Linked DNA regions of Homo sapiens. The protein of the gene in region 7 purifies or fractionates together with the protein of the main gene of each other region. This does not show direct contact. Each region holds a gene or a part of one and is shown on either strand. Other genes may lie near its edges.

Region 1 (5,200 bases), on a different chromosome or scaffold from region 7:
CCTTTAGCTTACCCTTTCAAATCCTTAACACAGACAAATCTAACGGCCTCAGGTACATGTAGTAACTGGGAAAAGAAAAGCACAAAAACAGTGTGTATTATTAAATATTTACTTGGAAAAAGTACACATCAGCCACCAAGTCTTATAACCATCTGTTTCCCTTAGAGATTATTGCTAGATTGTTGCTTTGCTTCAACCTCAAGAATTTTAATTTAGAAAACTCAGGGATAAGGTTGTTCTTGAGGGAAAATGAGATACAGAAAGCTGAAGGTTGGTAAAAGGGTGGAGAGAGGCAGATGAGGTTTTTTTTTTTGGCAAAGAACCAATGGGAGAGAAGACAGGTTAGTGGGGAGAGGTAAGAAGAACGTGTTAAAATATGTTTAAGAGGGAAAGACAGAATTTCATAGGGATTATCCAAAGCATTTAAAAAAATCTCAATCACCTAATATATTCTGTGTTTCTAAGACTAGAGTGGGACTACAAAGGTTAACAATTTCTTAGACGTTAAAAAAGCTTTAAGAAAGAAGACCTGTCTCTCTTACAATGCACATTCTCTGCAAACAAGGGTGATAAATGGGTAGATAGATCTGGGGATGTCTTGAACACAAAGCATGGAAGGCTATAGTACCCAAATTTTGCTGATCATCTGTTTAGTATACTGTTTATTAAGCAAACTAAAATATTTAAGGGCTTTCATAGCTATGTAATCTTCCCCAATCCAGAAAGCCTTTCAAATTCCTGAAGATAATAAATTTGTCACTTTGTAGAGGCCAATTTTCTTTGATGTTCTATCAATGCTTGCAACAGTTTACTAGTAACAATTCAGTTTCTCCCTGTTTATATGCTGGGGGTTAATAGCATGTTTTTTTGTAAATGGGATAAACGGAACAGAAAATTGTATCTTACACTCTAGTACAAGCAAGTGCTACAGTAACAGTGCTTTGGTATGGCTGACCCAATTTGTTGCTAGGTTCAATATTTTGGCATTAAAACTGCTGTGGCAACAAGAGAAAGAGGACTCACAAACTATGGTAAACGAGTTGCTTCAGTGAGTTTGCGGAGCTGCGACTTATAAAAACAGGAGAGAGCTGGGCATCTGAAGAATCGAAGAAAAAGGATTTCAGAGACCAAATCATCCTGCAGAAAACCACATACACTGATTTATCTGTACACCTTTTAAAGGACTGGCAAATGCTGCCAGCAAGATAGTAAAAAATAAACTTGATGTCCGTTTTAAGAAAACGATGCAACTCAATATTTGCTAAACATTGCCTGAACTTCCTCCAACATCCTTATTTGCCTTTCTTTGGAGTCTGAACTTGTTTTCCTGGTTTGGATAATAAGGGAGTGGTAGGAAGAAGGCAGGCAAATGTAGGAGACTGACGGTGTGTACATTTTATACAATTTTGAAGCTAGAAAGGAAATCAGAGGTCAAAGTGGTTCAAACATTGGTTTTGGCTGAGGCAACCAGAGCTAGGGGATAATTAAGCTCCAAAGTTAAGTCCTAGAAGTGGGCGGGGTCAATGCAAATTTAGTAAATCTTTAAAAACAACCTTTGTCCCCCCTGCTGGGAACACCAGCACCGCTCAAGTTTTTTCCGGTACAGAGAGGATTTCTAAAAATCCTCATAAGTCAGCGGGCATAACTGAAAGACCACAGAACCAGGTTTACTGAGACATGGGTCTAGCCCAACATCCTCTGTGCTTCTCAGCCAATCCACCTCCAACAAGACTCCTCGCCTCCCTGGGCTCTTTATTCCATATAATTTTTCTTTTTTACAGTAGACAAAAGTGGTTTGTCCTTTCCATTTTATGTTACTAAAGAGGTATGATGCAATGTATTGGGGGGAAAAAAGCTCTTATTTGCTCGAAGAAAGCAATCTGACTACAGAGGCCAAATCTACAGACATTAAATGATTTAAACCACAGGATAACCCAGTGACTACCAAACATTATCTGACCCCTTTCTTCACGTACTATATTTTTCCTGAAGCTCAAATTCAGGGCTAGCCAGGACCAGTACACACCCCCAGAGCTATTTCATTCCATTGGCTGGCTGGCCATCCGCAGCCTACAACCTGTAAATTTACTGTCAGGACGCCAGGTGTTTATTTGTCAGAGATATTACATTGCTTGTGATTTTTTTGTGTTTTTCCTTTTTTTTGGTATAAAACAGAACTTGTCAGAATGGGAAAATTACTTAATTGAAACGATTAACGCGTGATTAGTAAATTCCTTTGGTTAATAAAACTGTCTAGATTTCAAACTTAGAAGCCAAGTCATTTTCTATGTTCGGATATCATCTGTCACTATTGGAACAGGAGTGAACAAATACCAGAAAATAATTTGACAGCTTGCATTTAGGGGAGACTCACAAAAGCCCAAGAACACTGACGAGGCATTATCACACGGGCAGGTCATTCCCTTTCCTAGAAGTGCATTTCGGCAGGACCCGCCGTGTGTGACACAGACACCGGGACCAAAAGGAGACCGGTGCAGCGTCTACTCTGCATGCAAGATCAGCATATACAGAGGCCCGGGGTGACGGCGCGGGGGAGGGGGCAGGCCAATCGCATGATGATTTTAAGGCGGAAAAATCACCATCCACAGAGCCGGCCACATCCGAGGCGGGGTGACCCGGGCGGGGACCCGGCCCGCTCCAGCTGGGCTGGGCTGGGCTGAGCAGCGGCCCCGCACCGGCAGGAGGCCGGAGGGGAGGGCCGCAGGGGAGGCAGGGAGGGCGGGACGGGGCCCGGCCGACGCTCACCTCCCTTGCAGGGCGTGCGGTGCTGGCTGTGCTGGGCCCGGTAGCCTTCGATGACCTCCCAGGAGCCGTCGTCGCGCCGGATGGGGAAGGAGAGACTCAGCACATGGTTGCAGGGCTTGATGATCCGCAGGATGCCGCGCACCCGGTTCCGCTTCTGCTCCTCGCTCTCCCGGGTCCTCAGGTCCTCCACCAGCTTGTCCTCCACGATGCTGGCGCCGCGATCGAAGAAGCCCTCCACCATCTTGAAGAAGTTGGGGTCGTCCTCGCGGTCGGCCACCGCCTCGCTGTAGTGGCGCCGGGCGGCCAATGCCAGCCCCGGCTGCGGGGCGGCGGCGGGCTGTCCCCGGGCCCAGCCCAGCAACGCGGCCGAGTCGGCGGACGCCGAGCCCAGGGCAGCGGGCCCGGCCCGGGACAGCAACAGCGCTTCGCCCAGGTAGCGGTACATGGCCACAAGCGGAGGGGAGGTGCGTGATGGTCGCGAAACAGGCGCGCTTTCTCAGACTCCCCGCGACTAGGGAGGAAGGGTCCCGCGCGGGTTGCCCTTTTAAGCCGCAGCTTCCTGCTTGCCCGGCTGTCCCCTCCCCTCGGGCGCTCGCCACCTAACGGGGAGGACGGACTTCGGGGACAGGGCGCCGCCCAGGGCGCCGGGCCTCCGCCTCCGCCGCGGCCTCCCCGGGCCTCGCTGGCGGCAGCGCGCGCCGGCGGGGCGTCGGGGGCGCGCAGGCGCGGGCGGGCTCGGCGCGCACGCTCGCGCGCCAGTGGGGAAGGGAGGGGAGGGGAGAGGAAGGGCGGGGAGGAGAGTGGAGGGGAACGGACGGGAGGGGCAGGGAGGGGAAGGTCGGGGCGGGTCGGGGCGGGTCGGGGCGGGCCCACGGGCGGCCGGATTTGCCCGGAGGCCGCACCCGCCTCCGGCGGGGCTCTCAGGTATGTGCGCCGCGGGGGTCCCTCAGGGGGGTTGGGGGTAGCCCAGGGAGGTCGGGGTCGGGGGCTGGCCTCTGTAGGGCGCTCAGAGGCCGAGTCCCCCCGAGCGCCGCGTGGGTGAGGCTTGGCGGTCTGGTCGGGGACCGGGTCATGTGAGTCACGGGCGCCCCTCCTTTCCGCCCGCGCGCCCTCGGAACGGGCGGCCCACCCTGGCCTGTCCTCTGGCGGCCTCAGGCCGGGGCCGGGCGTGCAGGGGCTGACACGTGGGCAGGAAAGCGAGGCAGAGCCGCCGCCGCGTAAGGCCGGGCTGAGGGCTCGGCGTCACCAGCCAGGGCTGCAGAGAGCGGCGTGGCACCCGGAGTTGGATTATGCGTGGCTGGCGTGAGCTGGAAGGGAGTCACTCGCCCACAAGCTCTCACCACGCGAGCTTTTATTGTCCCGTTCAACTGCTCCGCAGTGTGGAGATCGCATAGTTACGCACGTCGTGGTTGTGTCGCCCCACAGTACTGACTGCTTCACCTTTGCAGACAGAGGCTCCGGCCCGGCGCGGTGGCTCACGCCTTTAGTCCTAGCACTTTGGGAGGTCGAGGCTGGAGGATGGCTTGAGCCCAGGAGTTCGAGGCTGCAGTGAGCTACGATAGCTCCACTGCACCCCAGCCTGGGCAACAGAGGGAGACCCTATCTCCCTCTGAAATAGTCTAAAATAAGGAAACTAGAAATGCGATAATGCCCCCAGGAAATTCTTTCTCAGGAATATATGTATTTGTTAAATGGTTCAGTATATGATTTATTTTTTATTTTATTTATTTATTTGAGATGGAATCTTGCTCTGTCGCCCAGGCGGGAGTGTAGTGGCACCATCTCGGCTCACTGCAGCTTCCACCTCCCTGGGTTCGTTCTAGCGATTCTCCTGCCTCAGCCTCGGGGTAGCTGGGATTACAGGCCCGCGCCACCACGCCCGGCTAATTTTTGCATTTTTAGTAGAGACGGGGTTTCGCTGTGCTGGCCAGGCTGGTCTCCAACGCCTGACCTCAAGTGATCCGCCCGCCTAGGCCTCCCAGAATGCTGGGATTACAGACGTGAGCCACCGCGCCTGGCCTCAGTATATGATTTATAAGCTTTATGCTGTATGAGGGTTCAGTTATGTATTTATACATACTTGATAGGAAATGCTAAAGTTCACATTCCTATGGATAGCTTTTGGTGCTTTTCAAACTAACGAGGCTGGCACGGTGGCTCACGCCTGTAATCCCAGCACTTTGGGGGCCAAAGCAGGCTGATCGCTTGAGGCCAGGAGTTCAAGACCAGCCTGGGCTCGTCTCTATAAAAAGAAAATAAAAAATAAAGCTCTAATGACAGTCATTAAAACTAGCTGCCAAACACCACATTACTAGCGTTAGCGGTCTCAGTGTACTTGGGTGGTTTTAAAATGACACCCATTGGACCTGCAAAACGATGGTGCTTCCCGATATGTTCATGTTATTCATCTTTTAGAATATGGAAGAGAAAGTTC
Region 2 (4,419 bases), on a different chromosome or scaffold from region 7:
TCTAAGGGCCACCAAGGTGGCACAGAGTACACTGTAATAATCATTATCAAGTATACAGGAGAGGATAGCCTGCTCACTTGTCAAATTTGACAAATTTGAGCCTAAGAGAAAAATGACTCTAAGCCACGTTCCGAACCAACCCATCTACCTAGCTATCACGACAGCTTCGTGTTAGTGCACTGGAGGCAGTGGCCCAACTAATAGAGTCTCACTTTGATTTTCACTTGCTATTATGCAAGTAGCTCCTTTGGAATGTTCTGGTGAAGACAAAGAAGGATCAAAAATTGAGTTGGAATTGGTAGTAGGGAGAACATTTAGGCAATTCTTGGGTGTCTGGCCATAAAGCTATCAAATTGCATCCTTATTTCTAACAAACTCTTCTTCACTCCTAGAGTTTTCTTTTTTATTTGGGGAATACTGTTTGTAAAGTAGAAATTGGCAGGATTAGATAAAATTATAATCAATTACTTTTTATACAGTAATCACACAATTGGAGAGCATATATAATTTAAAGCCTTTTTCTGCCCCAGTGTATTAATCAAATATGTGAAAATTTAAAAAAAAAAGCCTATCTTATGAACAGAAAACCAACATAAGAAATACAGCACTGGCATAGCCTATTCCATTCACCATATTATAAAATGTAAGAGGTACTGAGAACGTGCATTAGAAAAAAATATATAAATTACCTCTACAGGGATCTCATTGCCAGGTGTTGCAGGTATACCAGTCATGAAGTCACTAGTAATAAAGGTTCGAATAACCACAGATCTCTGGCATGAAGGCTGCTTTTGAAGTGGGTCCCGATCAAAATGTAATGGTGTCAAAATCACCGGCATCTGGCTGATTTTCCCAGCATACCCTAGAGAAAGGTATATGTAGAACCAATCACCACACCATAGAAAAGCACTCTAACTCAGTTCAATTAAATCCTCCCAGGCAATATCTGAAATCACATATACACACACAGCGTAGTTAAGACTGTCATCATGCATTGATTTCAGCTACTCGCAGAGCATTTTAAATGGACTTAATCACAAATGCAAAAAACAGAATTTGATCACATCAGTGATGTTTCACTGATGTGCTGTAAACAGAAACAGTCCAGTCTCATTATTCTCTATTATAATTTGCAGTATAGTTATATTCTACACTGCAAACAACGAATTAGCGAATACTGAACCATTTCTCCCAGGGGAAATGGAGGGTTAGGTTCCTGCAAGCCTCTGGTTGTAATATTTTCATCAACTGATTAATATATAACCTTGTTTTATGTGTTTCTGATTTAAGACACTGTATTTAATATTTATTATAGATTCATTAACACTGAACTGACAATCAGTAGCTCTTTAACTCATGCCTGAATGAAGTTTATCTAACACACAGATTTTCTCTGTAAGGTACATCACAGCATTCCTGTGCTTAGGAACCCAGACAGCACTTCAACACTATAGTTGAGATCCATTTTAAACAGCAAAATCACCAACAAAAGACATAAAAATGCAAAAGATATAGCATCAAGGAGACCATGAAAAAGACTTGTTCACATTATGAGAGCTGAAAACAAGAAGGCATAGCGTCACCTTGTTCAAACTCAGCTGGGAACATCTAAGTCTGGAAATTCAAATTTTCTGCTGCTCTGTGCATGTCCACAAATGGCCACAAAGGGGAATATATTTTATTTAGAAGCAACATTATAGGCCAGGTGCAGTGGCTCACGCCTGTAATCCCAACACTCTGGGAGGCCAAGGCTGGCCTGACCTGACTCCTGACCTGATCACATGAGGTTAGGAGTTCGAGATCAGCTGGCCAAAATGGCAAAACCCTATCTCTACTAAAAATACAAAAAACTAGCCAGGTGTGGTGGCGGGTGCCTGTAATCCCAGCTACTCGGGAGGCTGAGGCAGGAGAATCACTTGTAACAGGAGGCAGAGGCTGAAGTGAACCAAGATTGTGCCACTGCACTCCAGCCTGGGCGACAGAGCAAGACAGACTCCGTCTCAAGAAAAAAAAGCAACATCATAGAACATTCAAAGATTTAAATAATAAAAACAAAAGCATCTAAAAAGCAAAAGCCACATCCTCCTACTCTTAATATCAAGCTTCCAAAAACTAGTTTCAGAGGGTAGTAATCAAAAACATGAGCAACTTACCAGACTCCCTGAGAATGTTATGGGCCTCAAAATCAGCTTGGCGTAAAGTACTGAGCACCCCTGTTGTCAAGAAAGTGGGAGTAACATCTGTAGGAGGTTCTTTAACTGGTGGGCCAAATATATAAACAACTCTGGAAACAAAGAGGTAAAAATAATACAGCAATTACATTTCAAATGTAGAAATTACATTTTAGTATGAGAAGCAAGGCACTTAGAACAGTAACATTCTTTCCATTTCCCACTTAGTTTCAGGCCCTTCTCCTGCCCACTTCAACTCCCCAGATGGATAGGACAAGATATAAGATTATAGGAAGGTCTGTGTTCTACGTGTTTTCCTCAAAGTGTGTTCTCTGGAATATTCTGTATCTCAGAATGTGCAAAGATATAAGTGATTATTACAACTCTCTTTTCACTTAATGTACTGGGTCGAAGAGTATCCCCAAAACTTCATGCCCACCCAGAATCTCTGGGGAGAAAAAGGGTCTTTGCAAATGTAATCAAGTTAAAATGAAGTAATACTGGATTAGGATGGGCTCTAATCCAATGACTGGTATCCTTCCAAGTGCTGGGAAATTTGGATACACAGATACCCACAGGGGAATGAGGGTCATGTGAACACAAAGACAGACTGGACTATGCTGCCACCACTCGATAGTAGGAAGAAGCAAGGAAGGATCCTCCCCTAGAGTCTTCAGAGAGAATATGACCCTGCCAACACTGAATTCAGACTTCTGGCCTCCTAAACTGTGAGAGAATAAATGTCTGTTGTTTTAAGCCTCCTAGTTTGTGGTGATTTGTTATGGGTAGTCCTAGGAAACAAATACACAATTAAAATTTAAAAATAGGTGTCTTTATGACAAGACTTCAGAAACTATTAATATACTATGCTAACATGCACTGGAAATCTCCAAGAGGAAACTACAGTGAATTTCCCAAAATTAGTAAACTCATCTTTTTTTCTCTACTTGAGAAACAATCATTCTAGAGAGATTCTCATTTGCACTTCATTAAAAAGGCCATTGAAATAGGACTTAGTATCCTACTACTTCCTTCCAAAAAAATGATTCATTAGTGTTTTATATAAATGTCTGTTTGAAAGACATGAAGATACACCACAAATATCTTGAGTTAATGAGAGTACAGTTTGGAACATAACTTGAGGAAATTAGAATCAGACAATTTTAACAACTTGAAGTGTAGCTGGCCACTGGTTTGAAGGGATCTGTTTCACAATCTTCACCCAGAAAACAAGAGGGAATCAGGGTAGAGATATGAGTGCCACTTAGCTAGTTCTCCCTATTCACTTTTCGTTAGTCCTGTTTTTAGCAAAGAAAATAAATCTCCCCGGAAACTATCATGGTAAAGTTTAATGTTTTTTCTTCTTTTCTTAATATGTACTTAGGTAAAATACACAATAGAAAACCATATTAGCACAAAACCACCGGTATCACCAACTACTTTATTGTCTCCTTCCAAACATACTACAACAGAAGCAAGGTTTTTGTCCCACGTATAGACAGTAAGTTATAATTTTTCTAAACAATACAGTTCCTAAAGTTCATAAAAGATCTTTACAGGAGAAAGTTAAGAGAATGCCATGAACCTGCTCTTTTCACCTTCTCATTTCTTACAAACAAAAGTAATCACTAGAGTGTACTGGGACAGGTATTTACCCACACTATATATGACAGTAAAACTGGAACAGTCCCTCCCTGTACAAAGATTCCCTTATCCAAATTAGGAAAAAAACCGGCAAACAGGGAAGAATATTTTTAAACTCCAATTCATCAAAAAGACCCCAGCAAATAAATCTAAAGTTCACCAAGATTCTTTTTTTTTTCTTTTTCCTTTTTTTGAGATGAAGTCTCGCTCTGTCGCCCAGGCTTGAGTGCAGTGGTGCAATCTCAGCTCACTGCAAGCTCTGTCTCCCGGGTTCACACCATTCTTCTGCCTCAGCCTCCCGAGTAGCTGGGACTACAGGCACACACCACCATGCCTGGCTAATTTTTGTATTTTTTGTAGAGATGGAGTTTCACCATGTTGCCCAGGCTGGTCTCAAACTCCTGGGCTCAAGTGATCCACTCGCCTTGGCCTCTCAAAGTGGTGGGATTACAGGCGTGAGCCACCATGCCTGGCCCCCATTATTGAAGATAGTAATAATTCTATTTTTCAGCATTTTAAAGATGCTTCTGTATTTGACGGTTTTCAGTTCATTTGAGTAAGCCTTTGAATGAGCATGTTCCCATCGGTAAAAACATGGCTTCCC
Region 3 (4,419 bases), on a different chromosome or scaffold from region 7:
CCGAGCCTGCCACCCCTCAGGCTTGGCTACAGCCGGTCAAGCATCTGCTGAAGAGCAGAACTGCTCCGAGCTGCAGAGACGCGAAGGTCTGGCCCCAAGCGGCTGGTGCGGACGCCAGCACGGAGCCACTCACAGTGCAGACACCCGAAGCAGACACAAGGCTCTCGGCAACGGCAGCTCAGCCTGAGCCCTCACTTAGGACATGCGGGAGAGCACGTGACGAAAGGCTGCGGCCACTCACCTTGGGTTTCGCTCACGTTTCCCACTGAAGCGGGATTTGATAATCCCCGCAATTCCCGAGTGCAGAATGTCTCGGGGCCCCGCTCGCATGTGGCCCGGGTCTCCCCGCACGCGCCCGCACGGCGCAGAGGGCACCTCACGTCCTGGGGCCCGGGTCTCCCCGCACGCGCCCACACGGCGCAGAGGGCACCTCACGTCCTGTTACGTGTTTTCTAGGACTTAGCAGCTGTCACAGGGTTGCCACATAAAGCAGGTCATGACCCAAGGTGCAGGGGCCACGAGTGACAAGATGCAGAGAGGCCTTCAAGTTCCACAGCTCAGCCACAGACCAAGGCTCTGGAGACCCTCCCCACAGACATGAGAAGCTGGGCCTGGAGCCCTGAAAGTGGAGGGCGGAGGCCGATCTAGAACCTGATGGAGCCCAGGTACCCACATGCAGGCATCAGACACAGGTCCTGGAGGATTGAACCCCGAGGGGACGCTGGGAGCTCCAAGGCTGCGGCCGCAGGAAGAGAGTGGCGCTGGCCCTGTCCCACCTTCATCAGACTCAACCATCCCACAGGCCCTAAGCCTCCTGGGTCATGAGGAAGACACTGGGCCCCTGACCCCCTAACCAAATATGCCCGAGAGAGATAGAAAGCAATGGAAGAAAAGGCCCAGCTCCATACATGCTCCCAAGAGACAGGGAAGCACCAGGCACTCCTGGAGCCACCTCCTGCCCCAGCCAGCCCGACGCCTCCTCACCGTCGACTCCGTCAAGCCGCCCAGGGACACGACTAGCCCCAGCAGGACGTGGTAGCGGTAGGTGGGCAGCCCAAGGAGCTGGGTGATGCGTGGGAAGGCCTGGGAAGGTGCACTCCAGTTCACGGAGGCCACATCGGACCTGCAAGAGAGTGAGTGAGACAAGGCCGGGCTGCCAATGATCTCGCCATGGCTGCGGGGCCAGCACGGGGGGCCTACACCCCGACAGTACCTGGGAAACAGCTTTTCCAGTTCTCCTCGGTGGGGCACGTGGGGGATGGGAGGGCTGTCAAAGTGCAGGAGCGTCAGGAACACGCTGGCGGCGTGAGCACGGAAACGGTCAATCTTCTCACTGGCCTGCTGGGCCACACAGCACATGATGCGCTCACAGCTGCAAACCGAGAGCAGGAGGTAAACCAAGGGCGGGCGGTAAATTAAGAGCGGGCGGTAAACTGAGCACAGGCGGTCCGAGCCGTGACTCCAGCCCAAGCACCACGAGGACATGCGGGCTCCTCGGGACATGGTGGCTGAGTTGGCAGCTGACACCAGGACACTGGCTCGGAAGAACCACACTCCGTTACCTTCACATCCCAGGAGCCCAACCCTACAGGTGCGCAGCAAATACATGCTACGTACTTGTTACACATGTGCTACGTGTTACATGCGTGCTGATGAGGTCTTAGGGTTGAAGCAGGGACAACAAATAGGATTACAGGAGCGGGTGGAGAAGAGTGATGGGGACAGAGAGGCCGGGGATGGGGAGAGAGAAGCTGGGGCTGGGGAAGAGATGGGGAGGGGGAAAGAGAAAGAGGTGAGAACTAAGGAAATCAGGCCCTGGGATCCCCACGGCCGAGTGTCCCTGACAGAGAGACTGACAGCAAGGGCAGGGCCTGGACCCCCATGACTCAGTGCCCCCGACAGAGACCCGCAAGGGCAGGGCCTGGACCCCCTGACTGAGTGCCCCTGACAGAGATCCGCAAGGGCAGGGCCTGGACCTCCATGACTCAGTGCCCCCGACAGAGAGACCGACAGAAAGGGCAGGGCCTGGGGGTACCCACAACCCCGTGCCCCCGACAGAGACACACAGCAAGGGCAGGCCCCAATGGCAGCCTCAGGTGCAGGGAACTGAGTGATGGCTCAGCTGGTCCTGGCAGGAGCAGACCCCCAGGTTCAGGGTCCTAAGCTGAGAAGTCCCCACCTCCTGCCCGGCCCTACCCCGGGAAGCTGGCTGTCATCAAACTGGCCAGAGCACCGTTGGAGGCCCAGGCTGGGGAGCAGAGCCTCGTCCTGGGGGCACTGGGCAGAGGAGGATGGGCCCCAGCTCACGCCATGGCTATGGGGGCAGGAGGAGGGGCCTGCACAAACCTGGGGTCAGGGACCAGAGAGGCTCTCTGGGAGGAGGGTGTGTGCCCAGCAGTGCAAATGCCACTGAGCACCAGGACCGCCCGCCCCGCCAGCCTCCCCAAGCTCGGGGCTGCCCTCTAGGATGCAGAAGAGCTGCGACGTGACACTCACGTATGGGCCTCGATCAGCTCAGGCTGGCTCCGAGCCAGCAGAAGTGTCAGATCCATCAGACTGGTCATGGCGGCCTTGCGGACCCTGATGGGACAAGGAGAGGCAGAGACACCCAGCTTGAGAGGGGGGTTCCAACCCTGGTTCTGCCCACCACGCCGGCAGCCTGTGTGAATTCGACACCCGTGACTAACCCCACACAGAGCCCAGGCACGCTGCCAGGGAGTCACGGGGCCTGCAGAGGTTCCCTGTGCGCTACAGGGACGTGTGCAGGGAGCCACCCACAGCCACACACACCGGGGCCCCGAGGCATCCTACACACACAGGCGTTTCAGGGGTTATCAATCCCACTACAGCAAGAAATGTTGGCAAAACCCAATGTAAGCAGCCGGCAGCCTTTCATTGAAGACGCGTCCTCCCTCACACCCTGTCAACGAGGACGACACAGGCCCAACACCTGAGGACGGGCTGGACAAGCACCTGCAAAGCCCTGCCACGCAGGCTCACCCGGGAGCAGAGAACAGGTCATCTTCCCCAGAGCCTTTAAAACGCAAAACACGGCACAAATCTACAAAGATTTCTCCCTGCAGAAAAGCCCGGGGCCTCCGAGTTTCCACGGAATAGATGGGCTTCTCAGAAGAAGCGCTCACCCACTGCTACGTACGTACCAGGTGCCCACGTCCCCTCTGCTGTCCGTGGTGTAGTCGTCCATGCAGCCCAGCAGCGCACAGTAAATCTGGGAAACATTCTCTCCGCACACAGCTTCGTCTGGGGCTCCTGCTTTCACACCAACAGTCTGGCAAATCCTGAAATTTAAAATGTGTGAGCTAACAAACAAACATCGGTGAGCCTCATCTTCCACATCGCAGAGGGCTGATGTGTGTTCCTGATCCTGAGAAGACACGCTCAGAACAGTCCAGGACCCTCGGGTAGATCAGAAACACAGAGCTCCTTCCACATGTATGGAACGTGGGACGTGCTTCCCCGAGGTCACGCTCTGCCGTCTCTCCGGTTGAAAGGTGGATGGGGACGCCCCCTGCGGCTGGTCCCTCCCACTTCCCACCCTGACTAGAGGGAACGGATGCTGGCATAGGAGAGAAGGGGGCGTGCGTGGCCCCCGCGGGACTGCTCCTCTTGTGTGCCTGCAGGGAGGAGAGGGCATATGGCGTGGCCCCAGGTGCGTGTCTGTCAACGAGTGCAGAGATCATTCCAAACACTGGCTGGCAGGGTCAGCTCCTCTTTGCCAACCTTGGGCCAGGACACATTCTCCAATTCTCCAAGGGGCCCAGTGTCCCTAAAGAAGTTTAACATTCACTACGACTATGACAGCAAGAGAATGAAAGAGCCTCCAGCAGCTGGGACTGACGATCCTCTGGAAGAGAGGAAACCTAGGAAGTGAAGAATCATAAGTCCTGCCTCTGAGCAAAAACATCCCCCTTAGCGTTCATCTGCTGGCCTTTCAGAGACTTACGACTTTAGGGAGGAACTGTTGGGACTCACCTCGCAATGGCCTTCAAGCCGTCTCTCCTGGACTCAGCAAAACTTACGTCCTCGGGGGAAGTGTGGGTAACTGCTCTTAAACCTGTGAGAACCTGGAAAGCAATAAAGAATCACAGAAGAACCATAAGCTATAACAAAGTGCACTCTTTAGGGAGGTGGCAATGTTGGCCCGGAGCCACAGACCCCACACCATGAGATAGGCAGCTCCTGGCACCACCTTCCTCACGGCCATCCATGGCCCCTGGTACAACCCAGGAAGGACACCCGGGGAGAGGTCACCTCCAGCCTCTCCACGGCCCCCAGTACAACCCAGGAAGGACACCCGGGGAGGAGTCACCTCCAGCCTCTCCACGGCCCCCGGTACAACCCAGGAAGGACACCCGGGGAGAGGTCACCTCCAGCCTCTCCACGGCCCCCAGTACAACC
Region 4 (4,419 bases), on a different chromosome or scaffold from region 7:
CACAAATAAAACCTATTATAACTCTTAGGAAATAAAACTTGAATCCTGATTGGCAGAACTGCCTCAGTAAGGGCTGGCTGAACTGCATACCCAAAATGTTTTAGATCTACGGTCCACTTTCACGTTGGCTGGACTAATGCGTTTCTACTGCTCCTCTTACACGTTGACTGACTTTCCTCTCAGGAAGAGGTAGAGACTATGTTCCTTTTTTCCTCAATCTGGGACTTGGTTTCTGAGACATCACTGTTGTAACCAAGAGCATGGTAAAAGTGATGTTATGTGACATTGAAGGATAAGTCCTAAAAAGCCAACTCTGCCAAGCTCTCCTGGAGCCCCAAAATACCACCTAAGTCCAGCTGCCCTGAAGCCACCATGCTAGAGATTTTCGGGAAAGACTATACCACTAATAGTGAAAAGCACAAAGAGCATCCTTTCAGCTCAGAAGTGAAAAGCTTCATGAGACTCAGAACCAGAAGAGTCTGATACTCCCGAGTTCTTCACCCACAGAAAAGCTTATCATACACCATTGATCTTTGGATGCTTTGCTAACATAGCAAGAAATAATATACAGTTGATACTGCTAAGCACCACAGCCACCACTTGGTTGGGTTCAGAAGACATCCTACTTTACCTTTTTAAAGTTTGGTCCAAATTTGTACCTACAACTTTTCCTTTTTTCCTGCAGCACAGGTAAAATGTTGGAACCTTTAACAAGTTCAGGCAATGATGATATAAAGAAGTTAACATGCAACTAGCTGCACTGGCTTCTAAATTGAGTTCACTGACCTTACCATGAGTTTGTAGTAACATTTCTCTCCAATCTCTGAAAAAGTTTTTCTCTCCAGGCCATCTGTACGCTTTACGTAGGGACTGTTAACCAACCCACGTATTACACATAAGGACTCTAGGTAAAATCTAGTGTTTGAAAAACAGCATGTTATATATTACACTAGGTTTTTCGTTTTTTTTCCAGTGGTGGGCTGTCATTACAAAAGATTGAACTTTTATACACTTCCTAATCAAACTTAAGGGGAATCTAAACACAAAAACTAATTCACTTTCTAGGAGCTCTTTAAAAATGGGCTTAAACCTACAATCCAATCTCGTATCTAAGTATGATGGAATGCTTTTTCCCCAGTGGCATTCATATAGTTCAGCTGTCAAGCAGTACCTTTCTTAAAATACCAGACTGAAAATAGTTCAATTTTCTGTAAAAAGTCAGAGCCGGGCACGGTGGCTCATGCCTATAATCCCAGCAGTTTGGGAGGCTGAGGCGGGCGGATCACCTGAGGTTGGAAGTTCGAGACCAGCCTGACCAACACAGGGAAACCCCGTCTCTACTAAAAATACAAAATTAGCTGGGCGTGGTGGCACATGCCTGAAATCCCAGCTACTTGGGAGGCTGAGGCAGAACAATCGCTTGAACCTGGGAGGCAGAGGTTGCCGTGAGGCGAGATCGCGACACTACACTCGTCTGGGCAACAAGAGTGAAACTCCGTCTCAAAAAAAAAAAAAGTCAGATCTGTGTAAAGAGAATTAGTGTACCTGAAAATTGTTTTCAGCTGTCAATCACTTTGGTCCTTTACTGTCATTCTAAGAATCAGCCTAATTTGGTTTACCTTGTCTTACAAATAAGGATTAGCAAACTCACCAACATAAAAAAGGTGTAGTACATGCTGCAAAAATGTAAGTATACACTGACATTTACTTGCCAAAATAACCACAAATGACTACACATATTTAACTATAATTAAATCAAGTTTTTAGAAATTTAAAGTCTGCTTCCCTAGAAATACAGGAACTTTGTGTGATAAAACTTGAGACATATGACAATTTCTGAATAGCAACTGGAATATTCAACCAACAATGGTCATGGTCAGTTTTGTATTTTTTCCTTAACTTATATACTTCATTCTTTCCAACTATTTTAAAGCTAAATCTTTTTTAAAAAAGTTTTAAAAATAAGTCACAGGCAAATCATGAAGAGTTGGGTTTATTTCAACAGTAAATCTGAAACTCTTGCCTTAAGCAAGAGTACTACAGTAATTATATCAGGAATAGACAATTTCCTACACTGTCAAATATATAAAAGTTCCTTTTGCACTTTCTTCAACACTGATCAACAAGCAGATTCAGTCCACATTTGCTTTGATCTAACTACTGAGTTAACCCAAGCTTCTTCTTCAGAGACTCTGGCATCTCGGGTGGAGGAGGGCGAGGAAGTCTGAAGTAGACCTTCACGGAGTCATAGATAAACCACTGTAGTGCAGTCAGGGTACCAATCATGATGATACGGGCAAACAGTCCCTTCCATACACCTGGTTCAAACAGGAAAAGCAAATGAAAAAAATGCAACATATCCAAAACTGTTGTTCTTTCTTTCAAGAAAAAAACATCATCCTACCTTTAAATCCAAGTCTCTTGAGGACCAGAGAAGCACTGCTACCTTTTTCTTTATTCAACACAGATACCACAGAATCAGCAGGGTGAGAAACAATTGCACAAAAGACTCCAGCTGAAAAAAGATAAAGGATCCCATACAGTGCCAGTTAAAAACAAAACTTCACAGAGCCAATAATCATTTTTATGATTTTAAAATAATATTTTTCTAGTTCTAAAATAAAAATCAGACTCAGGGTGACACGGGTACAGTTATCAAGCTGTCTATCCTATGTAAAACGGAACAATCTTTTAAAGTTTTTCAGATTTTATTCAACACTTTCTGTATAAAATTCTTAATAAACAACAACAAAAAAATGGTGCAACAGTAAGATCAATACATTCCCAAGCCTAATAATGACATCCCATGAAACAGCCCTTTTAGGAACTAGTTAGCAAGTATTTATGAATCCTAAAAAGCATATAAAATGTTATGGGAAGATAAAACTGCTTTATAGGCCAGGCACATCACCTGAGGTCAGGAGTTTGAGACCAGACTCATCAACATGGTGAAACCCCATCTTTACAAAAATCAGGCCAGGCGCGGTGGCTCACGCCTGTAATCCCAGCACTTTGGGAGGCCAAGGCAGGCAGATCACCTGGGGCCAGGAGTTTGAGACCAGCCTGGCCAACATAGTGAAACCGTCTCTACTAAAAATACTAAAAATTAGCCGGGCGTAGTGGCAGACGCCTGCAATCCCAGCTACTCAGGAGGCTGAGACAGGAGAATCGCTTGAACCCAGGAGGCGGAGGCTGCAGTGAGCCAAGATTGCACCACTGCACTCCAGCCTGGGCAACAAGGGTAAAACTCCATCTCAAAAAAAAACAAAAAACAAAAACAAAAATCAGCCGGGCATGGCGGTGCATGCCCGTCCCAGCTACTTGGGAGGCTGCGGCAGAAGAATCACTTGAACCCAGGAGGAGGAGGTTGCAGTGAGCTATTATCATGCCACTGCACTCCAGCCTGGGCAACAGAGCGAGACTATGCCTCAGGGAAACCAAAAAAACAAAAACACTGCTTTATAACCTTTGGAGTATTTTTCCCTCTCAAAAAACGCCAATAATGGAAATGATTATTTGTTCATAATTTCAGACAAGTGTGTTCTAAGTAATTCGTACCTATGTAACCTGCTACAAATGTTACAACCAGCTGCTCTGGCTTTGAACATTCACTGCGGGGCTTAGGAACCACAAACTTGTACAGTGCTTCAACAGTACGTTCAAAGCAGGCGAACTTCATCATGGTGTATGGTATCTGTCTCATCCAGAGAGGAGCAACCCCCTTGTAGAATCTAGGAAATCAAGAGACTTGTTTTACACAGTTGCATACACTCATCTATCAGAGACTGTCATTATTAACAGAAATGTCCGCACACGAGTCGAGTCCTGATAGTAACAAATGGCAGCATAAATGCATGTCATTTCTATCAGAACGTTAGACTAACATGCAGGTATATTTCTCTTACATGCCAATGACTCAAGCACCTTTGACTATACAACCAAAAAAGTTGCTGGATGTTTCTTTGACTACTGGAACCACAAGAAACAAGAAGTTTACAAGTGGAACTCAGTTCAAGATTCATCCACAAAGGTGGATCTAAGGAAGCATGTTGTGGTCATGGAAATTCTTAACTGTGAATAGATCACAAGGATACTAACAAGCCCTCCCTAAAAGTTAATAGTAAATGTTTAGGCCAAACATCAAGTCATTTGTAGACCGACAAATGGTCCTTACTCTAGGGAAAAAAAAAAAACTCAGTCCAGGGCTCAAACCATGTATTAACTTATCTTTACCTCTCAAGTTTATGTTCTACATACAGGTAAATAGACATTAAATGTTATAATAGTCTTTTTAAAAAGTCTGGTAGGCTTAATACTAAAAAATGAAGTTCACAGCCAGACGCGGTGTCTCACGCCTGTAATCCCAGCACTTTGGGAGGCCGAGGCGGGTGGATCACCTGAGGTCAGGAGTTCGAGACC
Region 5 (4,419 bases), on a different chromosome or scaffold from region 7:
ATTGTGGCTCACACCTGTAATCCCAGCAACTTGAGGAGCTAAGGTGGGAGATCACTTGAGGCCAGGAGTTCAAGACCAGCCTGGGCAACATAGTAATCCCCCAGGCAACATAGCGAGACCCCTGTCTCTTAAAAAAAAAAAAAAAAATTTAGCTGGGCACGGTGGTCTGTGCCTATAGTCTCAGCTACTTGGGAGGCTGGGGTGAGAGGATCACTTGAGCCCTGGAGGTCAAGGCTGCAGTGAGCTATGACCATATCACTGCACTCCAGCCTGCGCGAGACAGCAAGATCCCCATCTCTAAAATAAACAAACAGACTCTAAAAATGTAAATATCCGTAATACTAGGTATGAAAAAAGAGATAAAAATGTAAACACACTGAAATAGGAAACTTTGTTTCACTACTGTAAATGGAAAACCAGTATCACTTGCCACATATTGAAGGTGGCTGTAAAACAGAATATGATAAAATCATGTTATAAAATTCTGACTAGATACTGTTACCTGCAAAGGCTCTGAGCCTGTCCTTACTATAAAGGAAGATTATGAAGTATGAGGAAGGCTTAACGAAATGCTAGCACCAACTTGGACTCTCTTCTTAAGCAGAAATCAGAAGGGACTACCTTTCTCCCCACAAGTCACTGTTACTTCATACACTGTCTGATTTTTAAAGCGCCCAACTCCATTCCCTCATTTACTTCCTATTAGCTCAAGGGGACTTGACCTGGAGAGGTCATTAGGTCAAGGTCGGCCTTAGGCCAGGGACCCAGGTTTTGCTGGGAGTTGTTTTTTTGACTCCTGGCAGGCTTAAGCTAACTCTGGGGTAAGGAATGGATCTTGGGCGCATGAGCTGCGCTGACAATAAAGTGCCCAAGTGGAGCAGGGAGGTGGCTTCTACCGCTCCGGCTGGTAATTTCCAAACACAGAGGGAAGAGCATGGTGGAGCAAAACAGCTTGGAAATGTACCAGACAAGGCATCAAGAATCCTAGCTTTCAACCAGATCCTAATCTACTGGCTGAGAACCCAGCTTTGGATACTCTAACTGCATATAACAGAGGCTTCAGTTTCAAGACTTAGCAGCTCAGGCAGTAAAAGGAATCAACGTTTATGTTCAACCACATGGAGTTTCTCACTGTTCCTTGATGATCCGAAGCAACTAAATGCCTTCACTCTTTTCTTTGTCCATGCTGGCAGGCCCGTGCAGGCCAGTGGGCTTAAGTTCAGAATGAGAGGGACAGTGGCATGAAAAGAAGATGGTGAAGGCGGTCAGGAGGGACAGATTGTGTAGTATCTTTACCTCAGGGATCCAGGAGAATTTCATGACTGCCCCATGTGTTTGAAAAGAATATGAACTCTTACGTGCAAAGTTTTATACTGATATATTTACATATATGATAAAGTTTGTTAATTATGCAACTAGAATCCTTTAGAGCTGTGCTATCCAATATGGTAGCCACTAGCCAAATGGGGCTATTGCCATAAGTGCCTCCTCTCAGCCTCTTTGCCAGCTCTGCGCTTCTCCCACCACAGGATTTAACAGTGTCCTTCGCCTAGAACCCTCAGTCTTTCTCTCTTCATCATCCTTAAAGTCTCAGCTCAGGCAGTACTTCTTGGGGAAGCCCTTCCCCCTCTCCTTCCTAAGTCAAACTGTGCTATAATTGATTCTCGCTGCAACTCCAGCCCTTTGGAATACTTATCAAATATGAGATCTTACATTTCTTTAGGTGACTATTGGTTAATGTTTGGTTCCTGTTCTAAAAAAAATAGAAGATACTCCATAAATAAGTGTTGAGTAAATAAAGTATAAAGATCAGTTAGGAGGCTATTGTGACAGTCTAGATGAGACAGTGGCTTGGATTAGAGTGCTGACGCTGGAGGTGGAAAGAAGAGGAAGGGATTTGGGATAGAAATTCTAAGTATAACCAATAGGACTTAAGGATGAGTTGACGAAGGAGGTAAAGGAGATAGAGGAAAAGATGATCCTCAGGTTTCTGACTTGAGCCACTGGGTAGACAGTGGTATCACTTACTAAGCTGGGAAAGACTTGGGGGAAATGAAGCGAAGGGGGCAAAACCCAAGAGTTCTGCTTTGGACATGTCATATTAGGGATGTTAATCCAAACAGAGGTGACAAGTAAGCAACTAGATGGAGGAATCGGGAGCTCTGAGTGGTCTCCAGCATTTAGATATTAAAGGTCATGGCTGTCGCGGTGGTTCATGCCTGTAATCCCAGCACTTTGGGAGGCTGAGGCGGGTGGATCATCTGAGGTCAGGAGTTGAAGACCAGCCTGGCCAACATGGTGAAACTCTGTCTCTACTAAAAATACAAAAATAGTCAGATGTGGTGGCAGATGCCTGTAATCCCAGCTACTCGAGGAGCTGAGGCAAGAGAATTGTTTGAACCCAGGAGGCGGAGGTTGCAGTGAGCTGAGACTGCGCCACTGCACTCCAGCCTGGGTGACAGAGTGAGACTCCATCTCCAAAAAAAAAAAAAAAAAAAAACAGAAAAGAAGTCATAAAATTAGTTAACGTCACCAGCCACAGTAGACAGAAAGGAAAAAAAGACCCAGCATAATTCACATTAAGAAGCAACTAAAGTATATTATTGTACGAGATAGTTAATAAACGTAGTTACTCAATTAGCATTTCCCCTCTCTATGCAACCTTCCTCAGCTCCCTGGCAGACAGTGGCAGCAGTGTCCTCTGTGTCCCCACAGCACTCTGCATTCACCTCCAATGGCACATTTCAATACTGCTATGGCTATATGTCTGCTACACACTCAGGGGCAGCAATTTTTTGTATCTTCCATCTAGTTCATAGTAAGTTCTTACATTCTCAATGAATGGCTGACTTGAAGTCCTAGAAAGGATTTCACAGAAGATTTCACAGAAGAGAAAGAGGAAATGCACTGAACCTATCATCTGAAGGACTGTGCTTAAAGATAAGGAGGTGCTTATTGAGATGAAGGATATGAATTAGTAGAAGAGCAGCTGGAGGGAGACTGGGCCTCTCCTTTTCCAGATGGCTTAAACAGTGGGCAGATGTGTGTTCTAAATTGGGTCATGTTGGGCAAAGGGCTACTTTTAAAAATTATGTTAAAAGTTCTTACATATCCATGAGAGTAACAATCTGAAAGAAAACTGGAAAAGGACAAGAACAGGTGGTTCACAGAAAAGGAAATGCAAATAACACATAAATATGAATAAATGAAATGCCATTACTTCTGATTTTTTTGTTTTTTTTTTTGAGACGGAGTCTCACTCCATCACCCAGGCTGGAGTGCAGTGGCACAATCTCAGGTCACTGCAACTTCCGCCTCCTGGGTTCAAGTAATTCTCCTGCTCAGCCTCCGGAGTAGCTGGCATACAGGGGCATACCACCATGCTCAGCTATTTTTTGTATTTTTAGTAGAGATGGGGTTTTACCATGTTGGCCAGGCTGGTCTCAAATTACTGAGCTCAAATGATCCACCCACCTCGGCCTCCCAAAGTGCTGGGATTATAGGCGTAAGCCACTGCGCCCGGCTGACATTACTTCTATTAAGGAGAGACAAATTTAAAGTAACAAGATAGCATTTTTATAAGCTTTTTTCCTTAATGACTTTAAAATGGACAAGTTGGATGCCAAACATGTGAAAATTCAAACAGTTAAGAGTGTACAATAAAAGTGTCCCTCCTTCCCCAGAAGCAAACACAGTTGCCAGTTTTTTCGATCCTTCAAGAAAATATTCTAGACATATACAGACAATCTTCACCTCTCCCCTCACTTTACACCTTGCTTTTCCACTTTGTGATAGACCTTAGAGATTAAGAAAACATGCCGGTTGCATGGCAAGAGTGATGCCATCTTGATGCAAAACCACTATGACCACCAATATCTGACTCCCGCATCCCAAAGTGTTGGGTAGCATAAATAATTCCACACAAAGATGTCTACCAAGCCTCCCCACCAGCTAGTGCTCATAAGTTTCACAAGAAAGTATAATGTGTGACCAGCTGCATGTTTAACCAAAAAAGCCTCTATAGAAAGCATACTTTCTGGAGGGTAAGTGCAGGGATCCACCATCTTGCAGCCACCCAAGACATCATTTCTGTTCCTAAGTCCCTATTAAATGTTTACTTCTGAGAAACTGAATTTGTCAGCTTCTATTCAATGAAATACTATGCAGCTATGCAAGAAGTCTGGTAAGTAAAGGAGTCAACGTATAAAACAGAAGATATACTTGTTTAAAAAGACAAAAGGGAAAATGTGCTAGTTATGCACAGCAATTTCTAGAAGGACTCAAGAAACTGGTATAGTCATGTACTGCATAACAGTGTTTTGTTCAATGATAAATCACACATATGACAGGGGCCCCGTAAGATTATGATGGAGCTGAAAAATTCTTATCACCAAGTGCAGGGCTCTGTAACCTGTTAGG
Region 6 (4,419 bases), on a different chromosome or scaffold from region 7:
TTCACCTGTGTCTGGATTTATTGAAAACATACATTTCTCACTCACTGGCAAAATCATTTTGATCCCATAGGAAATTTCTCCATTAAGTCCTTCGTCTGGATCGGAAGCATTTAGTTGGATCACTCTTGTGTCGTTTTGGACATTTTCAGACAACACTACTTTATAGCTGGGCTTATCAAACGCCGGACCATTGTCATTCACATCCAGGACGGTTATTTGAATCTGGACAGACCCTGTTAGTTCTGGTTTACCGCCATCGATTACCATCAGCAATAAATTGAGTTTTGGCGTTTGCTCTCTGTCCAATAACTTCCGAAGAACTAATTCAGGCAATATACTTTTATCTTTTTTTGTTTTTATTTTAAGCTCAAAATTCTCATTTAGACTTAACGCATAGGTCAAAAGAGAGTTTACGCCGATATCCGCATCAGAAGCGCCCTCTAGAGGAAAATGAGAGTCCAGAGGCGCAGATTCAGAAACAGGTACCTTTTGTTCCCTTTCTCTGAACACCGGCGGGTTGTCGTTAATGTCCTTCACCTCCACGTCCACATGGAAAACCTGCAGCGGCCTGTCCACGATCACCTCCAGGTGGATACTGCACTCCGCGCTCCGCCCGCACAGCTTCTCGCGGTCGATCCGAGAATTCACAAACAAAATGCCATTCTGCAGATTTACCTCCAGAAGGTCCCCGTGTCTTTTGGACGCCACCCGGAACAGGCGCGGCACCAGCTCCGCCAGCTCCAGCCCCAGGTCCTGAGCGATGCGGCCCACGAAGGTGCCGTGTTTGGCCTCCTCGTAGACGGAGTAGTGGAGCTGGCCGCTCCCCACCTCCCAGGCTGCAAGGAGCAGAAGCGAGAGCAGCAGACGCTGGGATCCCGGGCCTCTTGGTCCGATAATCACCATTGCAGAAAATGAGGGCCTCTGAGTTGGGACAATCAGTTTTAAGGGATCGCTTGCCTGAGGTATTTTATGAGCAGTCACCCTTTTCTGTAAGTACATATTTAGTAAATTTTTTCCAGCATCACAGTCATTATGGAGTCGATCCTATTCCGTGAATGATTGGAATGTGGGTGCGGAGAAAAAAATTTTCCTGTTTCACCTTCTGAGTGTAGAGCGACATCATGTGACTGATTATGTAAGTACAAGAAAGATCCTGAGGTTCTTTTCGGTTTAGCCACTTCCTGGGTCACTCTTAATTCTAATGTTTCGACTTTGGGTTATTTTTCACGGATCATTTATAAATGCGGGTTTAGTTAATATACATGATATTAGTAACAAAACATCAACAATTTTATTACGCTGTAGCTTAAAAATGTTTTCTGCTTCAAAGTAGAAATCTTTCAAATACAGTAGGCCAGAACCTACACTTTATCATGGAAAATGATATACAGAATAATATACAGCACCCCTCCCCTTATATAGCTTACAATTCCGCTGTTTCAATAACTTTTAACCTTCACAAGCACTCCATCGTAAGATTTTAGAGAAAGTTAGGAATTTGTATTTAACAAAGGATAAGAAACTAAAATATGTCTAATACCAAACAATATTTCATTTATATAAATTGTCTTATTCATAAATCTGATGAAAGTTAGAATTCATCATAAATATGGAGAGCGTTATTGTTTGGTTCCTTGATGCTTGAATGTGATAACTTTTCACATAACTGCTCTCATTTCCATAACATGTTAAAACAAATCTCAGGAATAGATTCTGGAAAGTTTTACTCTAGCAAAAGTAAAGCACTTTAATGTAAAATGTTTAGTTGAAGCCTCCAAATTTCACACTATCCCAAAGCAACAATGGAGCACTAAAATGCGAAAGATCTCTTAAAGGGTTTTGGAGCCTAATCTCATTGACTAAAGTCAAGAGAATGTGAACTTGATATCAACCTTTTGCTTTTTCTCTAAATCTTCCCCTACAGGTCATTTAGTAGTTAGGACATGCTTCTCTTCAGAAAATCAGAATGGTGACTGTTATGCAAGGGGGCATCAAAAGACCTTTCATGAGTTTATTCATTAATTCAAGATCAGCTTTAAGAGAAAAAAACAGATAAGATCCTACAACTCATTGTGAACAAGTACACATAGATTTTGTAAGTCTATTAATACTCAAGTCAAAATCTTTAAACCAATAATTTGTTGCCATTCATTCCTACTGCATATAATAATAAAGGCAACTGAAATATGACACCTTTACAACACCAGGAAAGAGTAACCAAGAATGGCTCTACAAGTATAAGATAACTTAAATAAACTATAAAACGTTAAGTAATTAAAAACATATTTGAATTTTGATGTCATCAGGCTAATTATTTAAATTGTCTAATATCATCACCAAGTTTCTTTCCTATTTTTCATTTTCAAAAGTGGTCAATGTACCATACATGCTAAGGAACTTTAATTTTAAAAAATAGGCTGGGCTCAGTGACTTACACCTGTAATCCCAGCACTTTGGGAGGCTGAGGCAGGCAGATCACCTGAGGTCAGGAGTTCAAGACCAGCCTGGCCAACATGGTGAAAACCCATCTCTACTAAAAATACAAAAATTAGCCAGGAGTGGTGGTGCATGCCTGTAGTCCCAGCTTCTCGGAAAGCTGAGGCAGGAGAATTGCTTGAACATGGGAGGTGGAGATTGCAGTGAGCTGAGATTGCGCCACTGCACACCAGCCTGGGTGATAGAGCAAGACTCTATCTCAAAAAGAAACAAATAATAATAGTGTGTTATGTAGTTCTCACATACTCTTTGACCTAAACAAATTGTTAAGCCAATAGGAACATCTAAGTTTAGCTTAATACTTAAACAACCAAACTAGAAAATAAATTGAAATTATAATTTTATACCATAGAATGCAATCTTGGCATTAAGTATAAAAGACACAACTTTGCAGAAATCAGTCCAAGTAATTTGAATTATCTAAAATGCAAATTTGTTATTTATGTGATATAAAATAATAATTTACAAAATTTTAACCTGTACTGAAAACATTCCCAAGTCTTTAAAAGATCTTCAGTTATTCCAAAAATTTCATCTGGAGATGAGTAATGTATGCCCTATCTAATATTCACCTTTATTATATTTATAAAGTTTCATAAGTGGTATGATGGTTTAATCACTTTTGAGTCTGAAATATTTTATATTTTTATATTGTTGCCTTCTCTTTAATACTTAAAGAATGTTTTTAGCCAATGAATATTATGATACAAAAGCTCTCGATCTAAAGTCTATGAATAGGCTTCAGCATAGACTCTTTGAATATTGTGCCAAATGGTATGTTATGCCTCTATACGGGGGGGAAATAGCTAGATATGATTCTCAAGAAAGTCTGTAATACCACCACTCTACGTGTAGTAAGAATAACTAAATATGAAGAATGACTCAGAAGTAAATGATCTTTGCTCAAATCTTCAGATGGGATGATACTACGTGGAAAGAAAATTTCAAAAACATTAGAGATAAGGCATTACAAGATAGAGCAGTTACAAAGTGAGATGAATGAAACTGATAATTGTCAGTAGGTACTCACATTAATATATTTAATTTTTTCTCTGCTAGATGAATCTGAAAAACTTATGGAAGAATGCCAACTAGCATATATTATAGATAATATAGCCCTATATGCATGTCTTTAGCAAGTTTAGATAATTTGAATAATTTTATTTACCTAGTTTCCTTTGGAATCATAAATCATGCCATTTTGTTTGAGTATCCAATAGTTGACAAATCTCTTGCCTTTTCATGGAACAAAATCAAGAACAGGCAAAAAAAATTATTTTTTCAGATGGGGGTCTCACGATGATAGGTCACTGCAGCCCTGAACCCCTGGGTTCAGGGGATCCTCTCATGTCAGCCTCCCAAGAAACTGGGACTACAGGCATGCACCACTAGGTCTGGCTAATTTTTTAATTTTTTATAGAGACAGGATCTCGCTATGTTGTCCAGGCAGGCCTCGAACTCTTGGGCTCAAGCAATTCTCCTGCCTCAGCCTCCCAAATAGCTGGGATTACAGGCCTGAACCACTTTGCCTGGCAAGAACATGTAGAATTTTAGTCATATTATTTCCATAAAGCAGCATATAAGAATGCAAGGCTTAACTTTTTTCTTCAAACAATATGAAAACAAGTATTATCACAGGAATAAAGACAAAAGTAAAGATTGTTTCATATATAATGAATTTATGATGAACGTTTAACACTGTAAAAAAAAAAAAGAAAAGTAAATCATGTCATACTAATGGAGTATTCTAGCTTTGATACAAGCCTGAAGTTAGGAAAGCCAATGGACTAAGTGCAGTGGCACTGCATTCCCAGCTACTCTGGAGGCTGAAGTGGGAGAATTCTTTGAGCTTAGCAGTTCCAGGCTACAGGTCACCTGTAAATAGCCACTGCAGTCCAACCTGGACATCATAGGAAGACCTCC
Region 7 (3,500 bases):
AAGCACCATTACCCCATAGGATGTGGCCTGAGTGTGTGCCGTCACGTCACTTACAGACAACAGGCCTTGACCACAACCACGGCCTAGGCCATTTCTGCTAAAAAGAGAACCGACATTTCATTGCAGGCTCGTTCATTCCATTAAACATGTACTGGTTGAGGTGGGGGCACCCCTGGGTATTACTGAGGTCAAATTGGGGCAGGGGGTTCTGCAGCCATGTTCAAAGCTTCTGACTATCAGCACTGTTTCTGCTTTGGGGGCAGTCCCTCCAACCCCTACCCCTGTGGAGAGGAAACATGCCAAGGCTGCACAGAGGCCCTACTGGCAGGAGAGTAGAGGAGAGGACACAGTGGTGGCTTCCAGACTCTTGTATAAACGCTGACACCACACAGATAGTAATGCCTTCCCACTGCCCTGTGGACGCCAGGCTGAGGGAAGGCCTCCCATGTACCCGTCACTCCTCTCTTCTCCATCAAGGCCACGCTGGCAGGAGGGACGGACTGGCTTCGCTGTACTACACTGTGCGTGGGGAGGGAGGCACACAGCGTCACTGCCGCCCCCACCTGCACAGGGACGCGTTGGCTATCTCTGGGCAGCCCTGGGCAGGGAGACCGAGGCCTGGCAGAGAGCGCCATCCCTCAGCCTGGACACCTGTCTCATCCTCTGTTGGTAGGGCCGCCCCTCAGACTCCAACCCTGACAGGGGCAGGCTTCACAGACGGTCTCTAAACAGCCAGGCCCCGTATCCCCGGCTGTCTGCGATCTCCTCAGCACCTCCACAGCTCCCACAGCTGATGGCCAGGCAGGCTCCACCTTACCAGCCCAGCCACCCTCGAGAGGCTACTCCAGCCACACCAGGGCTCCCCGCCTGAGAAACCTTCCCAGCTCACTGTCCACTTGGCAAGGAGCCATGGGTCCTGCCCCAAAGTGGGCTCCCAAAACCAAATGTACTTTTTTCAAGACTAGGTTTTTCAAAATAAAACCACAGCAATAACAAAAAGAAAAAGAAAAACCATTTCCTTCCAGGTAGCTTGGTCAGGGTAATGAGCCAAAAGTCTCCTGGATGGGTCTTTGTTTCTTGTGAAAGTGCCTGCATGTTCTAGACTGTTCCATGGGCCACTTCAGCTCCAATGGGCACTTTGATCCCCTGAATGCTATTACTCTAGGACACCAGCTTCCGTTGCCTGCTAGCTGGTAACTCAGGGAGCCGACTGTCAGAGCGAGCAGGGACCTTGAGAACATGGAGCTCTTTTCTCAGATGGGAAAATGAGGTCCAGAGGGAAGGGAGCAGCTTCCTAGAATAAAATCCTAAAATACTAGAGGAGACAGGACCCCAGATTCTCTAGCCCTACTGATGACCTACAACATGCAAACACCCACGCCTCTTCCAAACCAGCAAAGGACAGTTCTGCCTAAGAAAAGACACGTTGGCAGCCATGGCTGACACTGATGCTGACACACACACACACACACACACACACACACACACACAGGCCACCCTTATTTTCCCAGTTTCTCAGTGGTCCAGAGACCCGCATTTGGGACCCACTGATGCCCCAGGGCTCCCCCAAGTCTGTACACCAAGCTATTCTCCATTCTTCCGGCTGAGACACAGTATCCAGGGCTGGCCTCTCCTTCCCCCATCCTTTCTCCCTGACAAGTATCAGGAGCACAGCTGGGGAGGATAAAATTAGGGGAGTTGGGGCCAAGCAGGGTCCCTACTCAATTGCCTGGGTGGCCTCTGCTTTCCAGACTTGGAGAGGAGTGTGGTAGCCTTGTGGTGGGGGTCACCAGCTGCTGCGGAATGGAGTTGGGCTCCTAGCCCCCCAAGCCCTGGGTCTCCCCCTACTTAGCCCCGCCCTGTGATCTAGGCCACCTTGTAAACACCTCCAGAAATTCAGGGGCTCCAGGGACACAAAAGAAAAGGCTGTGCAGCCTTCAATCAGCGTATCATTGGCCTCAAGCATTTATGGAGTGCCAAGTGCATGTAGGACACAAGGATATGGAACTAAAAGACCTGACCCCTTTCTTTGGAAGTTTGTAACTGAAGTAGGAAGTCATGATATTAAAGAGGTTTTGGCTTCTTTCAAATTGCTAGGCAAACAAGCGGTTCATGTGAAAAAGGCTATGAATATTCAAAAAGGAGGAATCTCTGTGAGCTGGCATGGATAGAAGGCTACATGGAAGAGGTGAGCCCTGTAAAAAGGGCAGAAAGAACCTCATGGGCAAAGGTACAAGACCACAGACAAGCTCTGCACGTTGGAGAGGACAGAAGATGTGAAGCTGTACACTGGCTTCCAGCAGGGCTGGGCTGGGGTACAGAGGGCAGGACTTTCTTGAGGGACCTTTTAAATAGGACAGCATGTCACCTGAGGGCAATTAGGGAGCTGTTGGGGGACACACCACTTTCCCTGCCTGGCCTGAGAGTCCCTCTAGCTTGATTGGCAACAACCAAACCACCAGAAGGGCCCACTGTGGGGTAGGACGGAGGGGAGATCCAGTTTGGAAGTCATTAAAGTTGTGATTTTCATCTTTGGCTCCAATCTTGGGGGAAAACATCCATGTTTCAGACACTCCTGGTGGGCAGGAGAAATTCGACTTCCTGGTTCTCAGAATAAATGCTGGTTCGGGGCAATAGTTGTATCAACAGGACATTCTGGAGTTGGCCATCAGAGCAGCACCAATCAATTACCCAATAACAAGATGATAACGCATGGCCCCCCACTCTCTTCTAAAGGTTACTCCCTAATAGGATCAGATAGCTGGGGGCCAACAGGAAGTTAAGGGGCCTTGGGTGTCATTTACCCCATGTTAAGGCTCTTTCTGAACACACAGATGCCCCCAATCCCCTAGGTGACCCAGGCCCCAAGGATGGGGTTCTGTGGGCAGCCCCCTTTATACTTTTGCCCCTCTTCTGTAATTCTCTCCCCAGACAAAATTTGTCTTCCGTTTCCTCAACCCCTGTTATCTGATAACAGTCGCTTTGTAAAGCAATGTGTGTCATGTACCTCTGGGTTTTGAAGGGTGCACTCCCTGCCCCACAAGCCCCTCCACCACACTTTCCCACCTCCCGAACCTTTGCTCAGGCACTCCCCTCCTCCGAGCTGCCCACCCAATGGTGCTCACTCATCACTGCCTAGATGACACAGCTTGCCATGTCTTGCCATGACAGGTGGAATCTTCCAGGGGGTTACAGAGACAGAGTTTGTGGCCATCTGTCACCCATTCTTTCCGTCTCTGCTCTGGCAAGGGACTGGGAGGCACCACAGACCACCTCAGACTCCTGTCTCCAAAATGGAGCTCCAGGGAGGCCTAAGGGGATGGTGAAGGGTCTGGGTGTCCTCCTTCAAATATCATGCCTCTCTCTGCTTCCAGCTGAGATCAATTCCTGGTAGGTTTCCAGTTTTGATTTCTGTATCTCCTGGGTTAAAATGCGGGTGCCCTGTGGCATTTCAAGCTTTTCACACTTGCAGCTTCAGTGAAGATCACAGATCAGGGACC

What was found.
Region 1: the proteins of RIN3 (region 7) and GLUD1 purify together in Homo sapiens (affinity purification with mass spectrometry, with the first as the bait; one large-scale study listed by BioGRID). This does not show direct contact.
Region 2: the proteins of RIN3 (region 7) and GMPS purify together in Homo sapiens (affinity purification with mass spectrometry, with the first as the bait; one large-scale study listed by BioGRID). This does not show direct contact.
Region 3: the proteins of RIN3 (region 7) and TBCD purify together in Homo sapiens (affinity purification with mass spectrometry, with the first as the bait; one large-scale study listed by BioGRID). This does not show direct contact.
Region 4: the proteins of RIN3 (region 7) and SLC25A3 purify together in Homo sapiens (affinity purification with mass spectrometry; one large-scale study listed by BioGRID and IntAct). This does not show direct contact.
Region 5: the proteins of RIN3 (region 7) and ADAR purify together in Homo sapiens (affinity purification with mass spectrometry, with the first as the bait; one large-scale study listed by BioGRID). This does not show direct contact.
Region 6: the proteins of RIN3 (region 7) and PCDHA11 purify together in Homo sapiens (affinity purification with mass spectrometry; one large-scale study listed by BioGRID and IntAct). This does not show direct contact.

Annotation. Positions count from the first base shown.
Region 1 is NC_000010.11:87,091,559-87,096,758, forward strand, and holds the start of GLUD1 (glutamate dehydrogenase 1, mitochondrial isoform a precursor), read right to left. Parts: upstream 3,286-5,200; 5' UTR 3,212-3,285; coding exon 2,767-3,211; intron 2,530-2,766; exon of another isoform or gene 2,421-2,529; coding exon of another isoform or gene 2,375-2,420; intron 1,097-2,374; exon of another isoform or gene 1,024-1,096; intron 66-1,023; exon of another isoform or gene 1-65. UniProt on the Homo sapiens protein: Mitochondrial glutamate dehydrogenase that catalyzes the conversion of L-glutamate into alpha-ketoglutarate. Plays a key role in glutamine anaplerosis by producing alpha-ketoglutarate, an important intermediate in the tricarboxylic acid cycle.
Region 2 is NC_000003.12:155,932,781-155,937,199, reverse strand, and holds part of GMPS (GMP synthase [glutamine-hydrolyzing]), read right to left. Parts: intron 2,285-4,419; coding exon 2,154-2,284; intron 863-2,153; coding exon 690-862; intron 1-689. UniProt on the Homo sapiens protein: Catalyzes the conversion of xanthine monophosphate (XMP) to GMP in the presence of glutamine and ATP through an adenyl-XMP intermediate.
Region 3 is NC_000017.11:82,926,066-82,930,484, reverse strand, and holds part of TBCD (tubulin-specific chaperone D), read right to left. Parts: intron 4,086-4,419; coding exon 3,994-4,085; intron 3,300-3,993; coding exon 3,162-3,299; intron 2,581-3,161; coding exon 2,497-2,580; intron 1,373-2,496; coding exon 1,214-1,372; intron 1,124-1,213; coding exon 985-1,123; intron 1-984.
Region 4 is NC_000012.12:98,599,267-98,603,685, reverse strand, and holds part of SLC25A3 (solute carrier family 25 member 3 isoform b precursor), read right to left. Parts: intron 4,052-4,419; exon of another isoform or gene 3,802-4,051; intron 3,732-3,801; coding exon 3,559-3,731; intron 2,516-3,558; coding exon 2,405-2,515; intron 2,319-2,404; coding exon 2,158-2,318; 3' UTR 1-2,157. UniProt on the Homo sapiens protein: Inorganic ion transporter that transports phosphate or copper ions across the mitochondrial inner membrane into the matrix compartment. Mediates proton-coupled symport of phosphate ions necessary for mitochondrial oxidative phosphorylation of ADP to ATP.
Region 5 is NC_000001.11:154,590,657-154,595,075, forward strand, and holds part of ADAR (double-stranded RNA-specific adenosine deaminase), read right to left. Parts: intron 1-4,419. UniProt on the Homo sapiens protein: Catalyzes the hydrolytic deamination of adenosine to inosine in double-stranded RNA (dsRNA) referred to as A-to-I RNA editing.
Region 6 is NC_000005.10:140,871,957-140,876,375, reverse strand, and holds part of PCDHA11 (protocadherin alpha-11 isoform 1 precursor), read right to left. Parts: intron 1,136-4,419; exon of another isoform or gene 904-1,135; coding exon of another isoform or gene 1-903. Other genes in the region: PCDHA12 (protocadherin alpha-12 isoform 1 precursor), read right to left, coding at 1-903. UniProt on the Homo sapiens protein: Potential calcium-dependent cell-adhesion protein. May be involved in the establishment and maintenance of specific neuronal connections in the brain.
Region 7 is NC_000014.9:92,516,781-92,520,280, reverse strand, and holds part of RIN3 (ras and Rab interactor 3), read right to left. Parts: intron 1-3,500. UniProt on the Homo sapiens protein: Ras effector protein that functions as a guanine nucleotide exchange (GEF) for RAB5B and RAB31, by exchanging bound GDP for free GTP. Required for normal RAB31 function.